7 linked regions of the Homo sapiens genome follow. The protein of the gene in region 2 purifies or fractionates together with the protein of the main gene of each other region. This does not show direct contact. Each region holds a gene or a part of one and is shown on either strand. Other genes may lie near its edges.

Region 1 (3,500 bases), on a different chromosome or scaffold from region 2:
ACATGAACATAAGACCTGCAGAGAGCCCCCGGCTGTAAACAGAAGTGACGCAGAGCCCTTCTCTCCCCGACAGGAGCATTGTCCGTGATGCCAGCCGTGCACACCTTCTCTCTCTTTGCGGGATTGGCAGTCTTCATTGACTTTCTTCTGCAGATTACCTGTTTCGTGAGTCTCTTGGGGTTAGACATTAAACGTCAAGAGGTAAGTTGGTGCCAGGATTATAGTCTATTTAATTTGAGTCTAGAATCTAGAGGAAGCAGCTAGCGGGTATAACCTTTGTTTCCCTCTGTCCCCTCAGAAAAATCGGCTAGACATCTTTTGCTGTGTCAGAGGTGCTGAAGATGGAACAAGCGTCCAGGCCTCAGAGAGCTGTTTGTTTCGCTTCTTCAAAAACTCCTATTCTCCACTTCTGCTAAAGGACTGGATGAGACCAATTGTGGTATGCGCTTATCTGTGGTTTTTCTCTTTCCTCTCACTGAAACAGATTATCACATGCCTTCTAAGAAGCCAGACAGCCTGGGAAGGAGATTCTTAAAGCTGTTAAAATGTATCTAAAAAAAAAGCAAAAGCAAATGTGGAACAGTAGATAAAATGTTTTTCCTGTGAGCTTTTATCAGTCCATATAAACAAGAGTTTTAAGTTTTTTATTTTGAAATAGTTTCAGATTCACAGAAAGTTGCAAAGAAACTTTTATTTTTCCTCTTAATAATGAGGAAATAGAAGCCAAGAGAGGTGAAGTGGTTTGCCCCAAGTCACTCAGCCCGTAAGTGGCAGAGTCAGGATTTGCACCCAGGAATTTGGACTCCTGGTGCTGTGGTCTCACCCACTGCCCTGTACTCCCTATTAGCCTGTCATTTAAGCTTTTCCATTTTAAAAAATCCTGCTTTTTGTGTGTGCTTAAGATTTTATTTCTGGTCGTAAGCTTATTTACTAAGCAGTCTCTGTCTTATGATTCATTTGTTGTTCCAGATAGCAATATTTGTGGGTGTTCTGTCATTCAGCATCGCAGTCCTGAACAAAGTAGATATTGGATTGGATCAGTCTCTTTCGATGCCAGATGTAAGATGACTTCCTTTTTTTTTTTTTTTTAACTTCTTTAGCTGATGATGAATACATTTTTCAAAACATGCACGTAGGTGTTTCAAGCAAGTGCCTGCTTCTAACTGCAAATGGTGACAGGGTTTCCAGGGTTAGGAGAACTGTCGCAGTGCACTGCTGGTGTGGGCTGTCTGGCATTCTGACTGAGCCCCTCTGGGCACAGCTGCAGAACACGAATAACTAGTCTTATGAGGTTACTTTATGAGATGCTCTCCTGATTGTGGGGCTAGCAGGAGGAGCACCCTGGGGCCCTGGGGGGAAGACTGGTGGTGTTAGGAATCATGAGTCCAGCTGGAGGCATCTCAGCCAGGAACCTCCTGGCACCCTCTTATTCTCCATGATCCTCGCCTTGCTTAGTTACTATCAGAGTGTTCACACTCTCTCCTATTCTTTTATCTTTCTTTCAGGACTCCTACATGGTGGATTATTTCAAATCCATCAGTCAGTACCTGCATGCGGGTCCGCCTGTGTACTTTGTCCTGGAGGAAGGGCACGACTACACTTCTTCCAAGGGGCAGAACATGGTGTGCGGCGGCATGGGCTGCAACAATGATTCCCTGGTGCAGCAGATATTTAACGCGGCGCAGCTGGACAACTAGTCAGTACCACCTTGTCTTGTACTTCAGAAGCAGCGGAGGAGGCTCTCAGCCAGGCAGTCAGCTCAGGCCTGAAATGTCTCACTGAAAATAGACTTTCTTGGAAAAGTTGTTTTTATGCAAAATGTATGTTAAATCTGGCTTTACCTTAAAAAACCTTTGAAAGGACTAATTTACCACCTAATACTTTGAAGGCTTTTTTCATTAAGTGCTCATGTAGTTTTTCTTTTGACTGTTAGCAGTATAAAACGTAGAAAAGGAAGTTAGGTTTTAAGAAAAAGTACTGAAACTAAAGACTTCCTCCCTGTGGAGCAGGTCAGTAACCCTGTCTGTCCTCTCTAGTACCCGAATAGGCTTCGCCCCCTCGTCCTGGATCGACGATTATTTCGACTGGGTGAAGCCACAGTCGTCTTGCTGTCGAGTGGACAATATCACTGACCAGTTCTGCAATGCTTCAGGTACCTTCTCCTTTACCAAATCTTTCCTGTTTTGCTGAAAAATTTTCAAATTATCATTTAAAAATCATTTGCATCGTGCCTCAGTTTATACCTATTTGTATATCAAAGCTGGGTCTCCCTGTGTCATCATTCCTTTCCTCAGTCATTCATTCTGAAATTGTCATGTTGTTCCTGGCTCAGACAGCCACCCTCGGGGCTGCAAGCTGAACAAGGTCCACATGTTCGGAGTGTGGTTTCCACATAAGGTTTCTCATCCTGTTCTAACTCCAGCGATTGCCTCTCAGGATTGGTATCTGGCCTTAGCTTCTCAGAGGAGGGCTTTTCTTTATCACTTTACCCTGTGGTTTTGTAGGAGCGTCGAGGTTGCCCTGGAATTTTCTTAATAAAAACATAGAAGCCCCGGGCTCTGACCAGTCAAGGCCATACTTGAAGGAGGAGATCTACTTCAGGGCAGAAAATGATGCATAGTATGCCTAAGATGAAAATGGTATTTCAGATTCATTAAACTGTGAAAGTGACATGTGGCTGAAGCTTTTAGATAAGGGGAAAGATTATCCCTCACTAGTAAGGAAAGTAATCGATAGAGAAGAAAGTAATGCCCCTCACTGTCAGTATTTTAAAATGTTTTACAAAAAATCTGGAGACCTATTCTTCTAACAGTCCTCCCTGCATGTCTCCGCCAGTGGTTGACCCTGCCTGCGTTCGCTGCAGGCCTCTGACTCCGGAAGGCAAACAGAGGCCTCAGGGGGGAGACTTCATGAGATTCCTGCCCATGTTCCTTTCGGATAACCCTAACCCCAAGTGTGGCAAAGGGTAAGTGCTGCTGCCATTGCAGATAAGCATCCACTGCAACTTTAATTTGCAGTAGAAAACTAGGAGAGGACTGGGCTAAGACAGTTGCATGGGAACGTCTCTTCTCCGCCCCACCCTGTCCTGGTCCTTTGGTGGAAGCAGGAAAACCGAAAACACCTTTTTAAGAAAATGCCTCATAGTGTTCAACTGATTCTGTCTTAGCGTGGGCATTCACATCTCATGCTCTCTCTGTGTCCTGGCCCCCTGGGCATGAGAATGAACGCAGATTCCTGTGCACATTCCAAGCGGGGCTGAGGGAGAGGACGGCCTGCTGGTAATCCAGGCCTGAAGGAACTTGGCCTGTTCACTTGTACTGATGGCAGCTGGGGCGTGATCTTAGCTTTAGTAACATTATCCCACATTAAGGTTGCGATTCTTTTAGCCTCGTCATGCTCCTTGCCAGCCCATCCATGTATAGGGTTATGGGCTATCTCACTCCCCCATCCAGCCAGGCAGCCAGTTACCCACGGAAGCCAGATATATGGCCCAAAAATAG
Region 2 (3,500 bases):
TAGAGGCATACCTCATGGGAGCTGGAAAACAACCAAAGCATGATTTCTGGCTCCTTCCTTAGAGCAACACAGTCTCCTGCCTCTGCTTTCCTACATGGATAACCCCAGAGGAAGTCTGGTTGGTTCAGATTTAGAGACGCGCCCTGTTCCAAGGAGTTGCAGCCATGGGTGGGAACGTCTCATGATACCTGGAGCTGGGGGATGAACGTGATTTATCAGAAGGGAGTAGGAGGGCAGAGAAGGAATGAATGGAAGTTCCAGCAAAGGAATATGTTTTTCTTCTTCTTCTTTTTATTTATTTATTTTTTTTTTTTTTGAGACAGAGACTCGCTCTGTCGCCAGGGTGGAGTCCAGTGGCGCCATCTCGGCTTACTGCAACCTCCGCCTCCCAGGTTCAAGAGATTCTCCTGTCTCTGCCTCCCGAAGAGCTGGGACTACAGGTGCGTGCCACCATGCCCGACTAATTTTTATATTTTTAGTAGAGATGGGGTTTCACCATTTTGGCCAGGCTGGCCTCCATCTCTTGACCTCGTGATCCGCCTGCCTCAGCCTCCCAAAGTGTTGGGATTATAGGCGTGAGCCACCGTGCCCGGCCATTTTCTTCTTTCTTTAAGAGATAGAGTCTAGCTCTGTCACCCAGGCTGGAGTACAGTGGTGCCATCATAGCTTGCTGCAACCTCAAACTCTTGGGCTCAAGCCGTCCTTCCCCCTTAGCCTCCAAAGTGCTGGGATTACAGATGTGAACCACCATGCCAGCCTGGAGCATTTTCGTTTGGGGGCAGGGGGCAACATAGAGAAATAGTGAAGGGTACAGGTTTTAGAGCCAGCCCAGCTATGGGTTCCAGTCTCTGATCTACCGTTTCAACAGCTTGGCCTTGAGCAAGCTCTACATTTCAATATTCTCAATGACTATGCTCAAGGTACTTCAAAAGGGGGTTGAAAAAATAGTACCGTTCTCACTAGGTTGACGAGAGTATTAAATTATAGGAGGTACAGAGTGGGAATGGAACCAAACCATTTATCAAGAGCAGTCCCTTGGGCAAATCCAGGTATGGGGAAGGCTGAGAACTTTTCTTCATGCAGTAACTGACATCTCCCTGTCACATCTCACCCCAGGCACAGCCTCCATGCAGAGAGCCAATCACTCCACAGTGACCCAATTCATCCTCGTCGGCTTCTCTGTCTTCCCCCACCTCCAGCTGATGCTCTTCCTGCTGTTCCTGCTGATGTACCTGTTCACGCTGCTGGGCAACCTGCTCATCATGGCCACCGTCTGGAGCGAGCGCAGCCTCCACACGCCCATGTACCTCTTCCTGTGCGCCCTCTCCGTCTCCGAGATCCTCTACACCGTGGCCATCATCCCGCGCATGCTGGCCGACCTGCTGTCCACCCAGCGCTCCATCGCCTTCCTGGCCTGTGCCAGTCAGATGTTCTTCTCCTTCAGCTTCGGCTTCACCCACTCCTTCCTGCTCACCGTCATGGGCTACGACCGCTACGTGGCCATCTGCCACCCCCTGCGCTACAACGTGCTCATGAGCCCGCGGGGCTGCGCCTGCCTGGTGGGCTGCTCCTGGGCTGGTGGCTTGGTCATGGGGATGGTGGTGACCTCGGCCATTTTCCACCTCGCCTTCTGTGGACACAAGGAGATCCACCATTTTGCTTGCCATGTGCCACCTCTGTTGAAGTTGGCCTGTGGAGACGATGTGCTGGTGGTGGCCAAAGGCGTGGGCTTGGTGTGTATCACGGCCCTGCTGGGCTGTTTTCTCCTCATCCTCCTCTCCTATGCCTTCATCGTGGCCGCCATCTTGAAGATCCCTTCTGCTGAAGGTCGGAACAAGGCCTTCTCCACCTGTGCCTCTCACCTCACTGTGGTGGTCGTGCACTATGGCTTTGCCTCCGTCATTTACCTGAAGCCCAAAAGTCCCCAGTCTCTGGAAGGAGACACCTTGATGGGCATCACCTACACGGTCCTCACACCCTTCCTCAGCCCCATCATCTTCAGCCTCAGGAACAAGGAGCTGAAGGTCGCCATGAAGAAGACCTTCTTCAGTAAACTCTACCCAGAAAAAAATGTAATGATGTAGGAGAAATTCACTGGGAACAACTAAATTGGATTACCGAAGGCTATTGTTAAAAATTACGTTCCGTGGTGACTCATGCCTGTAATCCCAGCACTTTGGGAGGCCGAGGCAGGCGGATCACCTGAGGTCAGGAGTTTGAGACCAGCATGGCTAACATGGCGAAACCCCATCTCTACTAAAAATACAAAAATTAGCCAGGCATGTTGGCACATGCCTGTAACCCTAGCTACTTGGGAGGCTGAGGCATAAGAATCGCTTGACCCGGTAGGTGGAGGTTGCAGTGAGCTGAGATCACACCACTGCACTCCAGCCTGGGCGACAGAGTGAGACTGTCTCAAAGAAGAAAGAAAGAAAGAAAAAAAGAAAATTACGTTCCAGCCAAGCACTGTGGCTCACACTTATAATTCCAGCACCTTGGGATGCCAAGGCAGGAGGATTGCTTGAGGCCAGGAGTTCAAGACTAGACTTGACAACATAGCAAGACTGCATATCTACAAAAACTTAGAAAAAAATAGCTTGGCATGGTGGTACATGCCTGTAGTCCCAGCTACCTGGGAGACTGAACTGGGATTACTGCCTAAGTCCAGAAGTTTGAGCTTACAGTGAACTATGACTGTGCCACTGCAGTCTAGCATGGATGACAGAGTGAGACCCTATCCCTTCCCCCCTAAAAGAAAGACAATCCATGAACATATAGTAACCTCTATTTGTCATGCTTTAAGGTTTACAAGGGACCTTGTAGACGACATACAATTATAAACACAAAGGTTAATCAGCATCAGGGATGTATTTGGAGTGGAAGTGTGTGTGAGATACTAACACAGAGAAAACCAGGTTTGATTATTTCTATCTGCTGCAAGAAACTGTGTCAGTTAGCACCAAACCTCCATCTAGACTCCTCTTGCCAAAAGCCAGGGTCATCTAATACCCCCAATAATGCAAACCAGCAATGCAAAGAGAGAGGGAAGATTTCATGCCCCACTCTCTATGAGTGCCGCACCAGGTAGCTACAACTCAGATTTTGTAAGGCTACTCCAGATTATAGCAGAGGAGAGAAAAGTACCCTAAATTTCAGCATTGCACAGATCTATGCAATAGAAGTTAGAAATAGCAATAAACAGACTCTCTTTAAACATCAAGGAAACCTTAGAATTTCAAGTGTGAGTCTTGAATAGTTGTGGAGAGACTGAGATGTCTTCATGGTTGGATCAAGGAAAAAAGTCACACTGTGAGATACCGAATGCTGTGTTAGAAGTTGACACGGCTCATGGGCCAGCCAGGAGCTCTCTGTTGAATCTGGACATTGAGTGTAGACCCCAGGATGAGTTTATCTCATGGCCAGGCGCAGTGGCTCATGCCTGTAATCCCAGCACTTTGGGAGGCCAAGGTGGGTGGATCCCCTGAGGTCAGGAGTTCAAG
Region 3 (3,500 bases), on a different chromosome or scaffold from region 2:
TTAAAAATTGCCTTCATTATTCTAGTTGTCTTCTCACTTTAAAAAGTTCATGTTACATTTTAAAAAATCAAATTACTTTCCCAAATTTACATAAATGGAGTCTTTTTCTTCCTCATCTGACAGTGATCCTAATGGCCTAGTGTAAAAAAATATACTGATGATCCCCAAGCTTACTGAATTTCATAAACTTAAATGATCTGGGTTTTCAGGTTCAGAGAAGTTAATGATATTTCCAGTATCACTGTGGCAGCTGTTTCTAGTTTGAAGATGATTTATATGTTAAATTTTAAAGGATGATGAAATACTTCTTGTGAAAGTTTCAAAGTACTCTACAAATGATAACTCATTGTTATCCAAGTGATAACCAAATGTTTTAACACTTACTCTGACACTGCATTTGCTTGTTTGTATATGAGCCAGTGGCATTGGGCTGTCAGCACAGAGCTGGTACCCAAAGATAGCAAAATTGACAATAGCGGAGAAAGTAAGACTCTGCAGCTGGAGAATGATGCCTGGAGCAGCAGCTGAAATAAGACACACCTATCACTTGTCTTTGTGTGTTCACTTTCCCTTTAGGTCTTTAATACCTTGTTACTCAGAGTGCGCTCCAAGAAGAAGCTGCACCAGCATCACCTGGGAACTTGTTAGAAATGCAGACTCTCAGGCTCCTCCTCAGACCTCCTGAATCAATCTGCTTGTTATTCAGATCCTCAGGCAATTCCTATTCACTTCAAAGTTTGAGAACCACCATTCTAAAGAATTGATAGAGGACTTGCAGTGTTCTTTAATGACTGAGCCCTCTAGCTTTGCCATTTCACTGTCTCTAGGACAGCAAGATTTTTGGAAGTGGGGTGGGTATCATGCTTACTAGTTGGTGTATTTTCTTTTCCTTGAGGTGGGGTAGATAGAGATTAGAAGTGTAGATTCTGGAGTCAGATTGCCTGAGTTCAAATCCAAGCTCTGTCATTTCTACCAAATTTCCCCACTTATTGAGGGCAACTGTAGTGAGCAAAGATCCCCCTACCACCATACTGATCCGTATTGGATGTGGAATTGAGCTACAGTAAGCCTTTAGGGATGTGTAGGTGTGTGTCATCATCATTGTTATTATTTGGTTATGGTTTCTTGGTCCTAGCTGAACCATCAATTCGTGAAAAGTAGGTGAAGTGTGGATAACTTTTTAATTTTATCTAGTATAGAAATGCTCTTAACAAGGAATCATAGAATTTTCAGCTTTACTGAAAAAAGTCTATAACAGTTACGGTAACTCTCATTAAATTATACCATACTAAGCAATAATAGGAAATTTTTACCAGCAGTGCTTAGAGACCAGTACTGACTTTGTTTTCTACAGGGGGCAGCTGGCATTTTATGCTATGTGGGAGCCTATGTCTTCATCACTTATGATGACTATGACCACTTCTTTGAAGATGTGTACACGCTCATCCCTGCTGTAGTGATCATAGCTGTAGGAGCCCTGCTTTTCATCATTGGGCTAATTGGCTGCTGTGCCACAATCCGGGAAAGTCGCTGTGGACTTGCCACGGTAAGATGTGTTGTGAGAACATGCAGGAGTATTTAGTCTATGCTACTCTCCTTGAACATGAGACTCCTTGGCTCTTATAGTTGGAACAGAGTTAACATTTAAACTTCTAGCAATTATCTCTGATAACTTTTTTTAAATCAAGAGTGTATTTAAAGTTATTTTTTCATTTGTATATAATTTTAAACCATGTTTTCTTACAGTTTGTCATCATCCTGCTCTTGGTTTTTGTCACAGAAGTTGTTGTAGTGGTTTTGGGATATGTTTACAGAGCAAAGGTATGTTGTCTACTGTAATTCACATAATGCCTTAAAAGGTGGTTTAAGTGTTTCAAGTAAAATAGAACACATTCATTTTATCAGAGTAAACATTTTCTTTTGCCTTACTTGTTTAATCTGTATTTCAAATATCTAAAGTTAATTGGCAAATATTTACATGTCAAGACTCCTTACCTCATTTAATATAGCAGAGTGTTATATATGTATTGTTCTTGATTATAGGTATTTATAGCTGCAAATGAATAATTAGCTGAGAAGTTTGTTCAGATTTCCTCAGCACACAGATTGCCTATATGAGGGGAGGCATAATTTTCTGATTTCTGCTTTAGAAGAACCAAACTCAGAATTGCGTTTTCCATTGTCTCTTTAAAAAATGCTTTGGTCCTAAACATAGAAAAAGGTGTTGTGAGTTGTGATCCCACCTTCCACCCCTGTCCTGAGGAACAAGGGGTCCTGCCAACTTAGAACACCAAGGCAGCTGGTGCCAGCACTCCTTTCTTGCCCTTCATTCTTTTTAATCATTTCACCGTTCCTTCCTTTCTATTTTGCCTGATTTTGCTGTCTACCTGTAGTACTACTTAAGGCTAAACAGGCTGCTTTAAATTAATTAATATGGGTATAATTTTAGAGGCATGGTAAAGACATAATAGACTCATTCTCATTATAACTTAATGGTTTTGAGTCAAGGGCATAATATGCCAAGTTAATTTTCAGATCATTGATACGTAAGGTACTGTAAAGCTGTGCTAAAAAAAAAATGCAATGGATTATGTCCCTACCTATGATCTGGTTATCAATTTTATGGACTTATGATATTACTGTTGTAATTACCAGATAAGTCCAGTCCTCCGAGGGGTAAGGAGGATCTGGTACAAGCAAACTTTACTAAGTGATACTTGCTTGCCATTTTAGTAATTGGCAGCAATAAGCTATGAAGCTTGTTTCCTGTCTCCTTTTTGCAATACATTGAACAGTAGCTTTTTCATAAAGTGCCATTTCTAAGGACTGATTTTTTTAAACCTGCCGATTACTTTTGCACATTTAGCCAACTCTAAACGTTGAATAAATAAAATGGAAATAATGTTGGCATTTGTCCTAAAAGTATCTTACAGGAGCTTCAGAGTTACTTTGTTTTACCTCCTTTAGGAAAGGAAAATGAGTAACTTATTTGTAAAAGGAAGGCATCCATTTATAATTTAGGACATCTATCCCAAGCCTCAACTTTTCTCCCTTTTGAATACATTGTTAGCCTGCCATTTTGCACACAATCTTCTCTTTGAATGCTTGAATGTATGTGGTATATGTCTGAATTTTTACCTGTCACTTTTCTCCCTCCTGCCTTCATCTATATCTATATGAAGATGAAGGCAGGAAGGGAGAAAACTTTACAGGAAATTCATAGATATCTGGCAACTTGCAAACATTTCATTTAAGTATTTTAGTAGGAGCCTTGACTAATGTTACTTTTACTAGTATTTTTGAGGGACTGAATTCTTTGTTCTGATTCAGGTGGAAAATGAGGTTGATCGCAGCATTCAGAAAGTGTATAAGACCTACAATGGAACCAACCCTGATGCTGCTAGCCGGGCTATTGATTATGTACAGAGACAGGTGAGCTTTCTTGAGGCAGATTTGTTTTTGAGGACCAATCACGATTGGGTCAACATTAAACTAACTGC
Region 4 (3,500 bases), 7.9 Mb from region 2:
TGGGCACCTGTAATCCCAGCTACTCGGGAGGCTGAGGCAGGAGAATCGCTTGAACCCGGAAGATGGAGGTTGCAGTGAGCCGAGATCGCGCCATTGTACTCCAGCCTGGGTGACAGAGTGAGCCTCTGTCTCAAAAATAAATTAATTTAAAAAAGAGAGAAAATGAGGGGGATGGGGAAAAAGCAGGCTGAAGGTGGGAGACCCCCCGCACCCCCCATCTCTGACTGTTGCCAGCCAGCTGTGATTTTGGAAGAGTTTTGCTAAACCTCTAAGCACTGTTTTTTTTTTTTTTGGTTTTTTTTTTTGAGACAAGAGTCTCGCTCTGTCAGGCTGTGTGCAGTGGTGCAATCTTGGCTCATTGCAACCTTCCCCTCCTGGTTCAAGCAATTCTCCTGCCTCAGCCTGCTGAGTAGCCGGGGCTACAAGCACGCACTACCACGCCTAGCTAATTTTTGTATTTTTAGTAGAGATGGGGTTTCACCATGTTGGCCAGGCTGCTCTCGAACTCCTGGCCTCAAGTGATCCCCTGCCTCAGCTTCCCAAAGTGCTGGGATTACAGGAATGAGCCACCACAACTGACAAAGCACTGGTCTTTGTCTGAGAAAAGGAGCTGGGTTGAATCGTGTCCCCACAAAAGATGTTGAAGTCCCAACTCCGAATCCTTAGAATGTGGTATTATTTGAGCTGGGTCAGGCGGCTCCTGTTTGGTAATAGGGTCTTTGCAGAGGTAGTCAAGACAAAGCCAGTAGGGTGGGCCCAGTATGACTGCGCCTTAGAGAAAGGGGAAACATAGACACAGAGACAGACACAAAGACAGAAGATGACGTGAGGATACAGGGAGAGGCTGGGTGCGGTGGCTCAGGCTTGTAATCCCAGTGATTTGGGAGGCAGTGGGAGGGGGGGCCAAGCGGGGGTGGTAGAGGAGGATTGCTTGAGGCCAGGAGTACAAGGTTACAGTGAGCTATTATTGCGCCACTGCACTCCAGCCTAGGTGACAGAGCTTGCTTAAAAAAAAAAAAAAAAAACTGTCTCGACCAGGCGCAGTGGCTCATGCCTGTAATCCCAGCACTTTGGGAGACAGAGGCAGGCTGATCCTGATCACGAGGTCAGGAGTTCAAGACCAGCCTGGCCAACATACTGAAACCACGTCTCTACTAAAAATACAAAAAAATATTAGCCGGGCGTGGTGGCACACGCCTGTAATCCCAGCTACTTGGGAGGCTAAGCCAGGAGAATTGTTGGAACCCGGGAGGCGGAGGTTGCAGTGAGCCGAGATCGCACCACTGCATGCCAGCCTGGGCGACAGAGGGAGACTCTGTCTAAAAAAAAAAGAAAAAGAAAAAGAAAAATACTGGGAGAATGTCATCTACAAGCCAAGGAACTCTTGGAGCTGCAAAAATCTAGGAGGGAAGCTTGGAAGATTCTCCCTCACTGACAACTGACGCCTTGATCTCAGACTTCTGGCCTCCAGAACCAGACCCAGAAGAGGAAACATTTCTGGTTATTTAAGCCACTCAATCCCTGCTACTTTGTTACAACAGAAGTAACAAACTCATATAGCAACTGCAGTCCTTTCCAGATTCTAGGGATAAAACTGAGCATTGTGAAAATATGGGGCTGGACACAGTGGCTCACACCTGTAATCCCAGCACTTTGGGAGGCCGAGGTGGGAGGATGGCTTGAGGCCCGGAGTCCGAGACAAGCCTGGGCAACATAGCAAGACCCCTGTGTCAACAAGAAATTTAAAAATTAGCTGGACGTGGTGGTGTGTGCCTGTAATCCCAGCTACTCTGGAGGCTGAGGCGGGAAGATCACTTGAGTCCAGGAGTTCAAGGCTGCAGTGAGCTGTGATCATGCCACTGCACTCCAACCTGGATGACAGAATGAGACCGTGTTTCTTTATTTTAATTTTCAATTATTTTATTTTATTTTTTTTAAGATGGAGTCTCGTTCTGTCACCCAGGCTGGAGTGCAGTGGCATGATCTCGGCTCACTGCAACCTCCACCTCCCAGGTTCAAGCAATTTTCCTGCCTCAGCCTTCCAAGTAGCTGGGATTACAGGTGTCCACCACCATGCCTGGCTAATATTTGTGTCTTTAGTAAGGACGGGTTTTCACCGTGTTGGCCAGGCTGGTCTCAAACTTCTGGCCTTAAGTGATACTCCCACCTTGGCCTCCCAAAGTGCTGGGATTACAGGTGTGAGCCACCATGCCCGGCCCCTGTCTCTTTTTAGCCAAAAAGAAAAAAAAAAAAAAGAAAAAAAAAGAAAGGGTCAGGTGCAGTGCCTCAGGCCTGTAATCCCAACACTTTGGGAGGCCCAGGCAGGCAGGTCACTTGAGGTCAGGAGTTCGAGACCAGCCTGGCTAACATGGTGAAACCCCATCTCTACTAAAAAACTACCAAAATTAGCCAGGCGTGGTGGTGGGCGCCTGTAATCCCAGCTACTCAGGAGGCTGAGGCAGGAGAACCGCTTGTACCCGGGAGGCAGATGTTGCAGGGAGCTGAGATCATGCCACTGTACTCTAGCCTGGGTGACAGAGTGAGACTCCGTCTCAAAAAAGAAAAAAAGATATGGAATGGCATAGCAATGTGGGGACTCCGGTGCTCCTGGCTATGGAGGTAAGGAAGATAAGGGGTCTGGATTGGCCTTTGAGTGGGGCTCTGTCTTCAGTTTCCTCTCTTTCTTGGGTGATGAGAAGGCTTCCCGACTTCCCCAGACACCTGCCCCGCCCCTCTGGTCACACCCCCTTGCCAGGGGAGGGCCTCACCTGGAGGGTGCAGCCAAAGACCCCAATCATGAGCATGGCCACGGTGAGGTACTCGGCCAGCACGTCCCACCAGGGTTTGAGCACCTTGAACGCAGGCTGCTGTTCCGTGAACTGCTTGAACTCGGCCACTGGGATCATGCTGCCTGTGGGACGGGACGAGACGGGGGGTGTAGAGAGAGACCCTCAGGATGGGAGGCTCTGCAGGGGGTCCTCCGAGGAGCCGGACACAGGCAGGCCTGTGACCCTCCCTGCCCAAACTTGTCCAAACCACCAAAGTGTGTGCCCCCACTTCCCTCTTAGCCTGGCCTTAGTCACCCTCCATGCAGACGTCACCACCTGCCCAGAACCAAGCGGCCACTGTTCCCCTCTGGGCACCCCTGCACCTGATCTGACTTGTCTGACCTCGAAGAGCACATGAGGGATAGTCCACAGGGCCGCCGCCCTCCAGCCTCCTCGGGTGGCCCCCTCCCCAAAACGAGGCATCCCTCTCCCACCCCTGACACCAAGGCCTGAAAACATCTGCCTCGATGCTCCCTGACTGCAGACACTCAGCGTCTGGGCCAGCCCCGGCTCCCACCGCCACCAGGCCTGAAAGCGTTCCAAGGCTCAGGACTTCCGGGGCGTAGGCCCCTCCACCCCCTCCAGGGGCACTCTGGGCACCACCTCCAACCTCTAACCGGAAAAGCCGGCTGGAGCCTGGCTCTGGTTACTAGGGCCCCAGGGGCAGGGACT
Region 5 (3,500 bases), on a different chromosome or scaffold from region 2:
CTCTGGGATCTACAAGGCAGCTTTCCCACTCCATGATGTAAGTTAAAAGGCAAAAATGAACTAAAAGGCCTTCTGTATACTCTGGTGTTGACAATAGCAAAGGGCTAACTTTCCTGACTGTAAGTTTCTTCCTCAGTAAAATGAAGGGAACATACTGCAAGATTACAAGCTCATTTAGGGTAAGAACTAGGTCTTTTGTTCACAGATGGATCCCAGTTATAAAGATACTCAGTTTTAAAGGAGCGAATGAATGAATGGACAGGACCTCTCTCACAGTTAATGTGTAAAGCAGTATAGATTAGCAGTTAATCTGTGTTAGCATTTCTGAGACCAAAATGCCTGCCCTGCCACTTTCTAGCTGGATGACCTTGTGAAAGTCATTTAGCCTTTCTTCCTCCATTTCCTCATCAATAAGCTGGGGATAAATTATTACCTACCTCCTAGAGTTGTTAAGAGGATTAAATTAATCCATTAAATTAATCCAAATGTTAGTCCCTAGCATATAATAAATACTATTATAAGTGTTAGCTGTTTTCATAATTACTAACAGATGTTATTATCAACCAGAAAAGATTAGTTCTTTGTCAGCAAAATACATGTTAGACCTTCTCATTTATCATTTTCTGCAACATAGACTTTTCTTCCTCATTTGGAATACGATTTTCAAACTGTCCCCTGGAATATCCCTGGGCTTTTAAAAAGGCATCTGTCAGGGTTGTTGTGACAATGGCAGTACCCCAGATGGTTGACATTTTTTTAAGGACTACATTCTGAGACCACAGCAACCCCTCAAATTCAAGAGTACTTCTCTAGCCGAGAACATCTCTCGTGAAATGAAATTTTTAAAATGTGACCACTGTAAATGCAGGGACATTATAACTAAAGCTGTTTAAACTCTGTCATTGAAATAAATTAAATACTATATTATATTGCATTATTACTTTGTTATATTCACTATCAATTTATCTGACTGTGTAAGACCAAAGAAAGTAAAGACTGAGATTGGTAATTGCTACTGTGTAGTACATGTATTTGTGGATAGAGACGATATTGAAATGTACTGAATAACATAATAAAACTAGGACACTAAACAGCAGCTTGATACACATGGAAAAGTAGAGAACAGGGAGCTGGGTGAGGTAAATACTGATCCTAAGAGACCCAATGTAGCCATCCAGCCTGAGAGTCCATGTGTTTTACTTTTGTGCCCCACTGAATTTAGCTAATTGCGAATAACAGGACATGAATTTTGAGGCCACTTGCAAATAGCTGTCACGAATATTAATTTGGGATGCCAGGGTTCTCTAACAGTTGACATTTGCTTTTGGCCATGTCTTTTCCACTAAAGCCTCTTCTAATTGCAGTGGTCCTGTATTCAGGCTAACAAATGGTCCCATGTGGTATTTGAGAGGGAGGTGTGTGAAGGTCAGGGCCTGTGCCCTGATTTGGCTGGGTGGTAATCTGGTTCTAGTGCCAGAAGAAGAAAAATGAGTCAGAAAAAAAGGCAACTGGATTTAAGCAGGAAGTTTTGTTTCTTGAATAAGCTAAGTGTGTAACATGATACCCAGCTTTATTGTTTGTTTTCTGTATGTTATCACAGAATAACTGCTGAACTGGGGGCAAAGAAGCCTAGGTTTTAGAATTGACCCTGCTGCTAACCAGCCAAGGCCTTGGTTTCCCCATTGTCCAAGGAGAGGGGTGGGTTATCACGTGTTCCTCTGGTGTGGTGATTTGGGCACTTGGGTGGCCCAATTTTTCATTGTGTAGGACTGCCCCACTTAAAGCATTTTAAGCATCTCTGGGGCCCTCACAGAGTCCCTGCAGTGCTCCCCAGGATTGTAACACCCAATCGTTCATCCCTGCCCACATTCATAAATGACCCCCAAGGAGGGTAGTACCATGCCTGGTTAAGAATCACTAAAAATTAGATGGTATTTCCACCCTTTCCAGAAGGTGAGGACCCCTTGTTCACAATTGACTATCAAGTATTTGTATCACATTTAAGAAGCAGATTTGTGAAAACACGATGATTATGGTGCTTACATGTTCCCTTCTGCGTCACAGTGCAAATTCCGCCGTCAGTCAGAGGATCCCAGCTGCCCTAATGAACGGTACCTTCTGTACAGAGAATGGGCTCATCCTCGAAGCATATACAAAAAGCAGCCCTTGGATCTTATCAGGTGAGGGGTTGTAGGGAGTACTCCAGGGGGAGGCACTCAGGGTGTTACCCCCACAGCATCTGAATGTGACAGTACTCATCAAGACTCTTGCCAGTGAAGGGAGCTGACCCAGAGTGCTGAGCTTCGTTGGCCAGGGTTTTTATTGAGGCTTAATTATGTGGGCATGATTAATTGAATCATTACCCATCTCCAGTATCATCCTCCCCCTGGAAGATGGCCAGTAATATGTGGCTCAAAGCTCCAGTTCTCCAATCACATGGTTGATCTTCTGGCATGGCCAGCCTCCACCCTGAGTCATCTCATTAGCACAAACTCTCTAGAGGTCCACCATGAGCCACTTCACTGGCATAAACTATCAGGCGTAGTCCTAGGGTCCCACTGTGAATAAAAAGGCACTCCTATCTCTCAGGAAGTTCCAAGGGTTTAGAGGTTACCCACCGCCCAGGAACTGGGATGCAGACCCACCAAATTCCATATTGCACAGAAGTAAATGTTAGATGTAGTTTCTATTGTATGGTAAGACATGTACATTTTCACTCTTTTCTTATGTCTGCCTCTAGGTTCTATTTCGTTGTATCTCACAAGATACAATGACTAGCTCAAGAGTTTTTCTTCCCAAGGTACCCTGTTGGTTTTCCTCCAGAAGCTTACGTTGTTTGGGCAGGGCTGAGGATTCTGGCTTGTGGGAGATAGACCAAGAACACCCAAACAAGCCAATAAAACATGAAAATAAATAAACAGAATTTCTAATGGAAGTGAAGAAAATAACAGAGCAATAGGATGGGAGGGCAGAGTGGGAAGTGAGTTGAGGGAGTTATCTTTGAGGAGGTGACTTTTAAGCTGAGATCGGATAGTGAAGAGGAGCCAGTGCTTTGAGGACTTGGCAGAAGTCCTTCTAGGAATAGGGGCAGCTTGTACAGTGGCCCTGAGATGCACACACATTTGGCAAGTTTGAGGAAACATCAGAGACCAGTGCTAGTGAGAAACAGAGCAAGACATGAAGTTAGAGGGGTGGCAGGAGCGCCGAAAAGAGTTTAGACTTTAATTGCAGTGAGAAGCAGTTGTAATATTTTAAATGTTTAAGTCATTGTATCCTATTCACGTTTTGCAGATAATGTGGAGAATGGATTATAAGGGGTACAGGGAGCAGGGAGACCACTAGGTAGGAGGCTGTTTGAGCCAGGCAGAAGACTGTGGGAGCAGATTTGGGATGTGTTTGGGGAGTCGGGTCGACAGGACTTGTTTATGGATTGGATGTGGAGAGTGACGAGGAGAGGAGAGTTAACTTCATGTCTGTCTGGAGCCACGTACCTGTTTTTT
Region 6 (3,500 bases), on a different chromosome or scaffold from region 2:
CTGCTGGAAGAACGGAGTTCATCTAAATCAATGTGAAGATCCCTCTTATGAGTTTAATTCTACAAATTTGCATATATTTATTCTCTTCCTAGACCTCCCTAGCAGCTATCCACCCAACAGCAAAATATTAAGTGTGCAGAATCAAGGAAACATTAGTGTGCTTCTGCTTCAAGATACTTCAGCCATCCCAGGAGACTTGAAAAAGTAGTGGTAATAGGAGAGATGAAGGAAAAATGAGCAGGTCTGACTAGTAATTTACCTCATCATTTTTAAGAAGAGATGAGTTTATTATCCCAAAAGCAAATGTACCTGATTTTTAAAATTAGCTCTACTTTCACTAATCAATACAATCATAAGTAACGAATCAAAATTGGATAATGAAAATAACTTAATTCCCACAGAGCAGCCATCAAGTAACATGGCAAATTATACTCACTCTCCCAGGAACCAAAGGGATAGTAGCTTCAGCCTTGGTCCTCTCCGCTTCATCATAACTGGGCAGTGTTGTAGCTACATTGTAAGATGGGGGCTTTGGAAACCCAGACTCATCCTTGTAGTCAAAATATGCTGCAGAATTTTAACAGTCACAATTTTTTGATGATTAGCTGAATTGAAATAAAAGGAGTTCCACTAACTCTAGCAGACAAAACCCAGCCATTCCCTTAAGAGTACATACATAACAATTGAACCAAAAGACATTCTTAGATGAATGTAAGAGACTGGGGGTGATTTTTAAATGTATCCACTTCTCAATTATTTAAAATCCAGACTTGCTTTGTAACCTTTCTTCCAACTGCTTCTGAAGCTTTTTTTTTTTTAAACTGTAATGTCAAAGCACAGAGTGTTTTTAAGGATTCCGTGATCACCTTGCCCTGTTACCTACCTGCGCTCTCTGCAGAAATGCTGCTGTAAGGTGGAGGAGCATCACCTGCAGCCTGTTCAGGTTCTCCAGACTCTTCTTCATTCTGCAACTAAATAAAAATTTCATATTTTAATGTAAGCATAAAGCCAATTAGAAAGATAAGAACCCAAAAACTGAAATAAATAGCCTTTCTCGAAAGCTATTTGGCAACGTATTTTGAAAGCCTTGAAATGCACAAATCCTTTAAGAAAAGTATTCTACTCCCAGGAAGTTATTCTATGGAAATATTCAAAGAGGCAAAATGGGTACATATAAGTGTTGTGTCAGCAAAAATTAGAAACAACCTAAATTCCAATCATAGGAGACAAATAAATTATAGTACATCACACAAAGGACTACTAAACGGCCATTAAAAATTAAATTTTGCCATCCTGGCCAACATGGCAAAACCCAATCTCTACTAAAAATACAAAAATTAGCCAGGCATGGTGGCACACTCCTATAGTCCCAGCTGCTCAGGAGGCTGAGGCACAAGAATCGTTTTAACCCGGGAGGCGGAGGTTGCAGTGAGCTGAGATGGTGCCACTGCACTCCAGCCTGGGCAACAGAGTGAAACTCTGTGTCAAAAAAAATATACATTAAATTTCAGCCAGGCATGGTGGCTCACACCTGTAATCCTAGCACTCTGGGAGGCCTAGGTGGGTGGGATCGCTTGAGATTAGGAGAGTTTAGGAGTTCAAGACTAGCCTGGGCAACATGGCAAAACAAACCCTGTCTCTACAAAAAATACAAAAATTACCCGGGAGTGGTGGCATGCACCTGTGGTTCTAGCTACTCAGGAGGCTGAGGCAGCAGGATGGCTTGAACCCAGGAGGTCGTGGCTGCAGCGAGCTAAGATTGTGCCACTGCCCTCCAGCCTGGGGCATGAGAGAGACCATGTCTTTAAAAAAAAAAAAATTAAATTTCATTACTCAAATAGATATTTACAGTGTACTATTATTACATGAAAAAAGCTAAACTTGCCAAACAATAGGCATCATATAATCCTTTTTAAAAAGGCAGACATATAATGGAAAGGAGGCCTAGAATGAGACATTTACAGTTCAACACTGTTATTTCTAGGTAATAGGAGTACAGGGGAATTTTTCCTTTTTGTTGTGTATCTGCATGTTCAAATATTTTGTAGTGAATATTTATCACTTGCATACTTTTTTTTTTTTGGAGAGACAGGATCTCACTCTTGTTGTCCAGGCAGGAGTGCAGTGGCACAATTATGGCACACTGTGACCCTGGCTAACTTTTTTTAAAATTTATGTTTTGTAGAGATGGGGTCTTCCTGTGTTGCCCAGACTGGTTTAAAACTCCTGGCCTCAAGTGATGTATACTTTTTTAAAGTTAGAAAAATAATCTGTTAAGACAAAAGACAAATCACAGACAAACCATGTTACCATTATATTCCACATGCACACCAAATTAAATCTTAAATAATTGAGACACTTATGAAAACATAAAATTCTCCCTAATTCTACATATATCTGTCAATAGATATCCCTTTTCCCTATCTCAGCAACTTTTCTGCCAGTCAAATCTTCAATTTTTTAAAATAACTCGCACTGAAAGTGTCTGCTGTTGCTAGTCTGTATAGTCTACACAAGTCATCTTCATAGAATAAAGACATTTCATTTGGTTTTTCCAGTCCAGTGTGACAATGAACTATATTAATTTAAAACATGAGTTGGCTGGGACTAGGAGCCAATCTGAAAATTAATAACAGAATATTTAGTGATATAACTGACGTAGGGGTCTGGTCCTGGCTTCGGTATCATCAGGATATACAGAGCCAACTGACATACTTGTAAAATACATACCACCTCTAAACCATACCGCTACAAAGAACTCTATCTTGAATTGAGACAGAAAAACAGAGAGACCGAGGTGTACTAATGTGAAGTAGAGCTCCATAATCCATTAAATTTTCTTTCTTTCTTTTTTTTTTTTTTTTTTTGAGATGTAGTTTCGCTTTTGTTGCCCAGGCTGGAGAGCAATGGTGGGATCTCGGCTCACTGAAACCTCCACCTCCCAGGTTCAAGCAATTCTGTTGCCTCAGACTCCAAGTAGCTGGGACTACAGGCGTATGCCACCAGACCTGGCTAATTTTTGTATTTTTAGTAGACGTGGGCCAGGCTCGTCTCAAACTCCCGACCTCAGGTGATATGCCTGCCTTAGCCTCCCAAAGTGCTGGAATTACAGGCGTGAGCCATTGTGCCCGGCCACAATCCATTAAATTTTAACTGATCATCTCAATCTCCACTCACTATGCTGTTCAAAACCAGATGTCAATAAATTTTTCTGACTAATACTACAAAAGCTTCAATTTCAAATGAATTCTTGTGTCAAATTCTCATCAGCATCTACCATCTGGGTACATTTTTTCGAATCCTAGTAATCTAATGTTAAACTTAAGGTACTCCCAAAATAGCTGTATTATAACCTAAGATAATTTTTCCTTTTAAACAAAGACATGTGGCCAAAATAGGTGCAGTAAAGCCAAATGCTCCTGGGACACCGAACTAGGAATTACTTAAATAGAGTTCTTGGGACCATGGTTCACCTAAAATACTGGTTTTAACATTATTTG
Region 7 (3,500 bases), on a different chromosome or scaffold from region 2:
TATCACTAACATTCCTATACACCAACAACAGTCAAGCTGAAGCCAAATCAGGAATGTAATTCCATTCACAACTGCCATAAAAAGAATAAAATACCCAGGAACACAGCTAACCAGGGAGGTGAAAGATCTCTAGAAGGAGAACTATAAAACTACGCTTACAGAAATCAGAAATGACACAAACAAATGAAAAAACATTCTATGTTTATGGGTAAGAAGAATCAATACTGTTAAAATGGCCATACTGCCCAAACCAATTTACAGATTCAATGCTATTCCTATTAAATGACCATTGACATTCTTCACAGAACTAGAAGAAACTATTTTAAAATTCATATAGAACCAAAAAAGAGCCCAAATAGCAGAGGTAATCCTAAGCAAACAGAAGAAAGCTGAAGAAATCATGCTACCCAACTTCAAACTACACTACAGGTCTACAGTAACCAAAACTGCATGGTACTCGTACAAAAACAGACACATAGACCAATGGAACACAATAGAGAACCCAGAAATAAGGCAGCACATCTACAACTAACTGATCTTCAACAAACTTGACAAAAATGAGCCATAGGAAAAGGATTCCTTATTCAATAAATGGTGCTGGGGTAACCGGCTAGTCATATGCAGAGGACTGAAACTGGACCCCTCCTTACACCATATACAAAAATTAACTCAAGACGGATTGAAGACTTAAATATAAAACCCAAAACTATAAAAACCCTGGAAGACAAGCTAGGCAATACCATTCTAGACACAAAAATAGGCAAAGATCTCAGGATAAAGATGCCAAAAGCAATTGCAACAAATGCAAAAATTGACAAATGGAATCTAATTAAACTGACGAGCTTCTGTCCAGCAAAGGAAACGGTCAACAGAGTGAATAGGCTACCTACAGAATGGGAGAAAATTTTTGCAAACTACGCATCTGACAAAGATTCATAATTTGCAAAATATCCAGCATCTATTAAGAACTAATCTAGGCTGGGTGCGGTGGCTCACGCCTGTAATCCCAGCACTTTGGGAGGCCCAGGCAGGTGGATCACGAGGTCAGGAGATTGAGACCATCAGGACTAACACAGTGAAACCCTGTCTCTACTAAAAATAAAAAAAAAAAAAAAAAAAAAATTAGCCGGGCATGGTGGTGGGTGCTTGTAGTCCCAGCTACTCGGGAGGCTGAGGCAGGAGAATGGCATGAACCCGCGAGGCGGGGCTTGCAGAGAGCCAAGATTGTGCCACTGCACTCCAGCCTGGGCGACAGAGCAAGACTCCGTTTCAAAAAAAAAACAAAACAAACAAACAAAAAATTAATCTAAATCTATAAAGAACTTAAAACACATTTACAAGAAAAAAACCCATTGAAAACTGGGTAAAGGACATGAACACTTTTCAAAAAAAGACATACATACAGCCAACAATCATATGAAATATAGCTCAACATCACCAATCAGAGAAATGCAAATCAAAACCACAATGAGATACCATCTCACACCAGTCAGAATGGCTAATTATTAAAAGGTCAAAAAAATAACAAATGCTTGCGAGGTTGTGGTGAAAAAGGAATGCTTGTACACTGTTGGGAGAAGTGTAATTAGTTCAATCATTGTGGAAGACAACGTGGCGACTCCTCAAAGACCTAAAAACAGAAATATCATTGACCCAGCAATCCCATTACTGGGAATACACCCAAAGGAATATAAATTGTTCTATTATAAAGACACATGCATGTGTTATGTTCCTTGTAGCACTGATTCACAATAACAAAGACATGGAATTAACCTAAATGCCCATCAATGACAGACTGGATAAAGAAAACGTGGTACACATATACCATAGAATACTATGTAGTCATAAAAAAGAACAAGAACATGTCCTTTACAGGAACTTGGATGGAGGTGGGGGCCATTATCCTTAGCAAACAAATGCAGGAACAGAAAACCAAATGCTGCATGTTCTCACTTATAAGTGGGAGCTAAATGATGAGAACACATGGACACATAGAGGAAGGGGAACAACACATACTGGGGCCTGTCAGAAGGTGGCGGGTGGGACAAAGGAGAGGATCAGAAAAAATAACTACTGGGTACTATATACGATATGATGTACAGATATCACTAGATATGATGTAACATATCACTAGGTGATGAAATAATCTGTACAACAAACAGATTAATAATTATGTACAACAAACCCCCATGTAATAATTGTGTACAACAAACCCCCATGACACAAGTTTACTTATATAACAAACCTGCACATGTACTCCTGAACTTAAAAGTGAAAAAAAAAAAACTAGCCAGATCATGAAAGCTCTGCTGAGTTTAATTTATATTTTAAGAACAGGGAACTGCTGTTGGGTTTTAAGCAAGAAAGTTACATTATCAGATCTGTACTTTAGATAAGTCACTCTGGCTACTGCTAAGTGTGATATGATTCAATCAGGACAAGACTAGAGCTAAGACTAGTTGGTGGCTGTTACAATAATGTAGACAAAAAAAAAATAATGGGCCTCTACACGAAGAGCACAGCAGTAGACAGACATGAACCTTAGGCAAAACTACTATTCTCAAAGCTTCAGTTTCTTCTAATAATACCTACCTCACACAATGATTTTGAGAATTAATCATGGCATTTTTTGTATAGGTGTTCTGTATTCTCTTAGCAAAACTTTCACAAGCAATAATAATTTCACGAAACAATTCTACTTCAAAATATATCAGATACAAAGATTATTCTTATGTTTTCTCCAATATATGTAAAAAGATGCCTTAACTATTAATGAAATTAAGTCAGATTATGAAAGGTTTACTCACTTATATTTGAAAAAGTAAATTCCAACTACTAAACATCCTATTGTGCTCCATTTAATCCTAATATTAAAAGATTGGCATCATTTTTAATTTCTCTAAAAACTGAAATGTAAGTGAATTAAAGGTAGGTATCAAGTTAGTCTCACTCAATGACAAAACATGAGCATAAAACAATTTCACATCTTCACCAAACTGATACCAGCAAGTAAATGAGTTATTAACTATTTAAGAGGAAAACTAGAAAACTCTTTTGTCAGTTTTATTTACTTTGAAGTTTTGGGACCTACTAAAGTTATATCTTCTGTAAAGCTACACAATAAAAAAAAAAGATAAAAGCTCAATTTTTCCAAATCTGCTCTGAAATTCACCAATCTTTTAATACATTCTTGCCTCTACCAAAGACAATCTGATTTCTAAAGCAATCTTTATTGATAGCTTAGCAGAAAGCATTTAACTTTGGCAAAAAGGTATTGGAAATCCAGCTTTTGCTCCACCCTTTGCTTCTTGCCTGAAATACACTTAAAACATTGTAAAAAGTTATGTTCTATACTTATTTCATTGACAAAATGACTGCCCTCAGAACTGAGTTCTCCACAGAACCCTTCTTAAGGTTCCTCCCCTTGTAATTTAAGTCCATCTCTTCCTGTCATCTGCTGTACAACTATTCATAATATATGTGCTTGTATAGTGTTCATA

Evidence for each region.
Region 1: the proteins of OR10H1 (region 2) and NPC1 purify together in Homo sapiens (affinity purification with mass spectrometry; one large-scale study listed by BioGRID and IntAct). This does not show direct contact.
Region 3: the proteins of OR10H1 (region 2) and TSPAN3 purify together in Homo sapiens (affinity purification with mass spectrometry; one large-scale study listed by BioGRID and IntAct). This does not show direct contact.
Region 4: the proteins of OR10H1 (region 2) and LRRC8E purify together in Homo sapiens (affinity purification with mass spectrometry; one large-scale study listed by BioGRID and IntAct). This does not show direct contact.
Region 5: the proteins of OR10H1 (region 2) and ANO6 purify together in Homo sapiens (affinity purification with mass spectrometry; one large-scale study listed by BioGRID and IntAct). This does not show direct contact.
Region 6: the proteins of OR10H1 (region 2) and NDFIP1 purify together in Homo sapiens (affinity purification with mass spectrometry; one large-scale study listed by BioGRID and IntAct). This does not show direct contact.
Region 7: the proteins of OR10H1 (region 2) and LRP12 purify together in Homo sapiens (affinity purification with mass spectrometry; one large-scale study listed by BioGRID and IntAct). This does not show direct contact.

What each region holds. Positions count from the first base shown.
Region 1 is NC_000018.10:23,538,007-23,541,506, reverse strand, and holds part of NPC1 (NPC intracellular cholesterol transporter 1 precursor), read left to right. Parts: intron 1-73; coding exon 74-201; intron 202-298; coding exon 299-439; intron 440-969; coding exon 970-1,059; intron 1,060-1,505; coding exon 1,506-1,696; intron 1,697-2,036; coding exon 2,037-2,152; intron 2,153-2,835; coding exon 2,836-2,965; intron 2,966-3,500. UniProt on the Homo sapiens protein: Intracellular cholesterol transporter which acts in concert with NPC2 and plays an important role in the egress of cholesterol from the endosomal/lysosomal compartment.
Region 2 is NC_000019.10:15,805,665-15,809,164, reverse strand, and holds part of OR10H1 (olfactory receptor 10H1), read left to right. Parts: intron 1-323; 5' UTR 324-440; intron 441-1,116; 5' UTR 1,117-1,127; coding exon 1,128-2,084; 3' UTR 2,085-3,500. UniProt on the Homo sapiens protein: Odorant receptor.
Region 3 is NC_000015.10:77,054,110-77,057,609, reverse strand, and holds part of TSPAN3 (tetraspanin-3), read left to right. Parts: intron 1-1,354; coding exon 1,355-1,546; intron 1,547-1,746; coding exon 1,747-1,821; intron 1,822-3,330; coding exon 3,331-3,432; intron 3,433-3,500. UniProt on the Homo sapiens protein: Regulates the proliferation and migration of oligodendrocytes, a process essential for normal myelination and repair.
Region 4 is NC_000019.10:7,895,010-7,898,509, reverse strand, and holds part of LRRC8E (volume-regulated anion channel subunit LRRC8E), read right to left. Parts: exon of another isoform or gene 3,171-3,500; intron 2,912-3,170; 5' UTR 2,907-2,911; coding exon 2,769-2,906; intron 1-2,768. UniProt on the Homo sapiens protein: Non-essential component of the volume-regulated anion channel (VRAC, also named VSOAC channel), an anion channel required to maintain a constant cell volume in response to extracellular or intracellular osmotic changes.
Region 5 is NC_000012.12:45,348,595-45,352,094, forward strand, and holds part of ANO6 (anoctamin-6), read left to right. Parts: coding exon 1-37; intron 38-2,064; coding exon 2,065-2,180; intron 2,181-3,500. UniProt on the Homo sapiens protein: Small-conductance calcium-activated nonselective cation (SCAN) channel which acts as a regulator of phospholipid scrambling in platelets and osteoblasts.
Region 6 is NC_000005.10:142,129,279-142,132,778, reverse strand, and holds part of NDFIP1 (NEDD4 family-interacting protein 1), read right to left. Parts: intron 972-3,500; coding exon 884-971; intron 568-883; coding exon 437-567; intron 1-436. UniProt on the Homo sapiens protein: Activates HECT domain-containing E3 ubiquitin-protein ligases, including NEDD4 and ITCH, and consequently modulates the stability of their targets. As a result, controls many cellular processes.
Region 7 is NC_000008.11:104,579,259-104,582,758, forward strand, and holds part of LRP12 (low-density lipoprotein receptor-related protein 12 isoform a precursor), read right to left. Parts: intron 1-3,500. UniProt on the Homo sapiens protein: Probable receptor, which may be involved in the internalization of lipophilic molecules and/or signal transduction. May act as a tumor suppressor.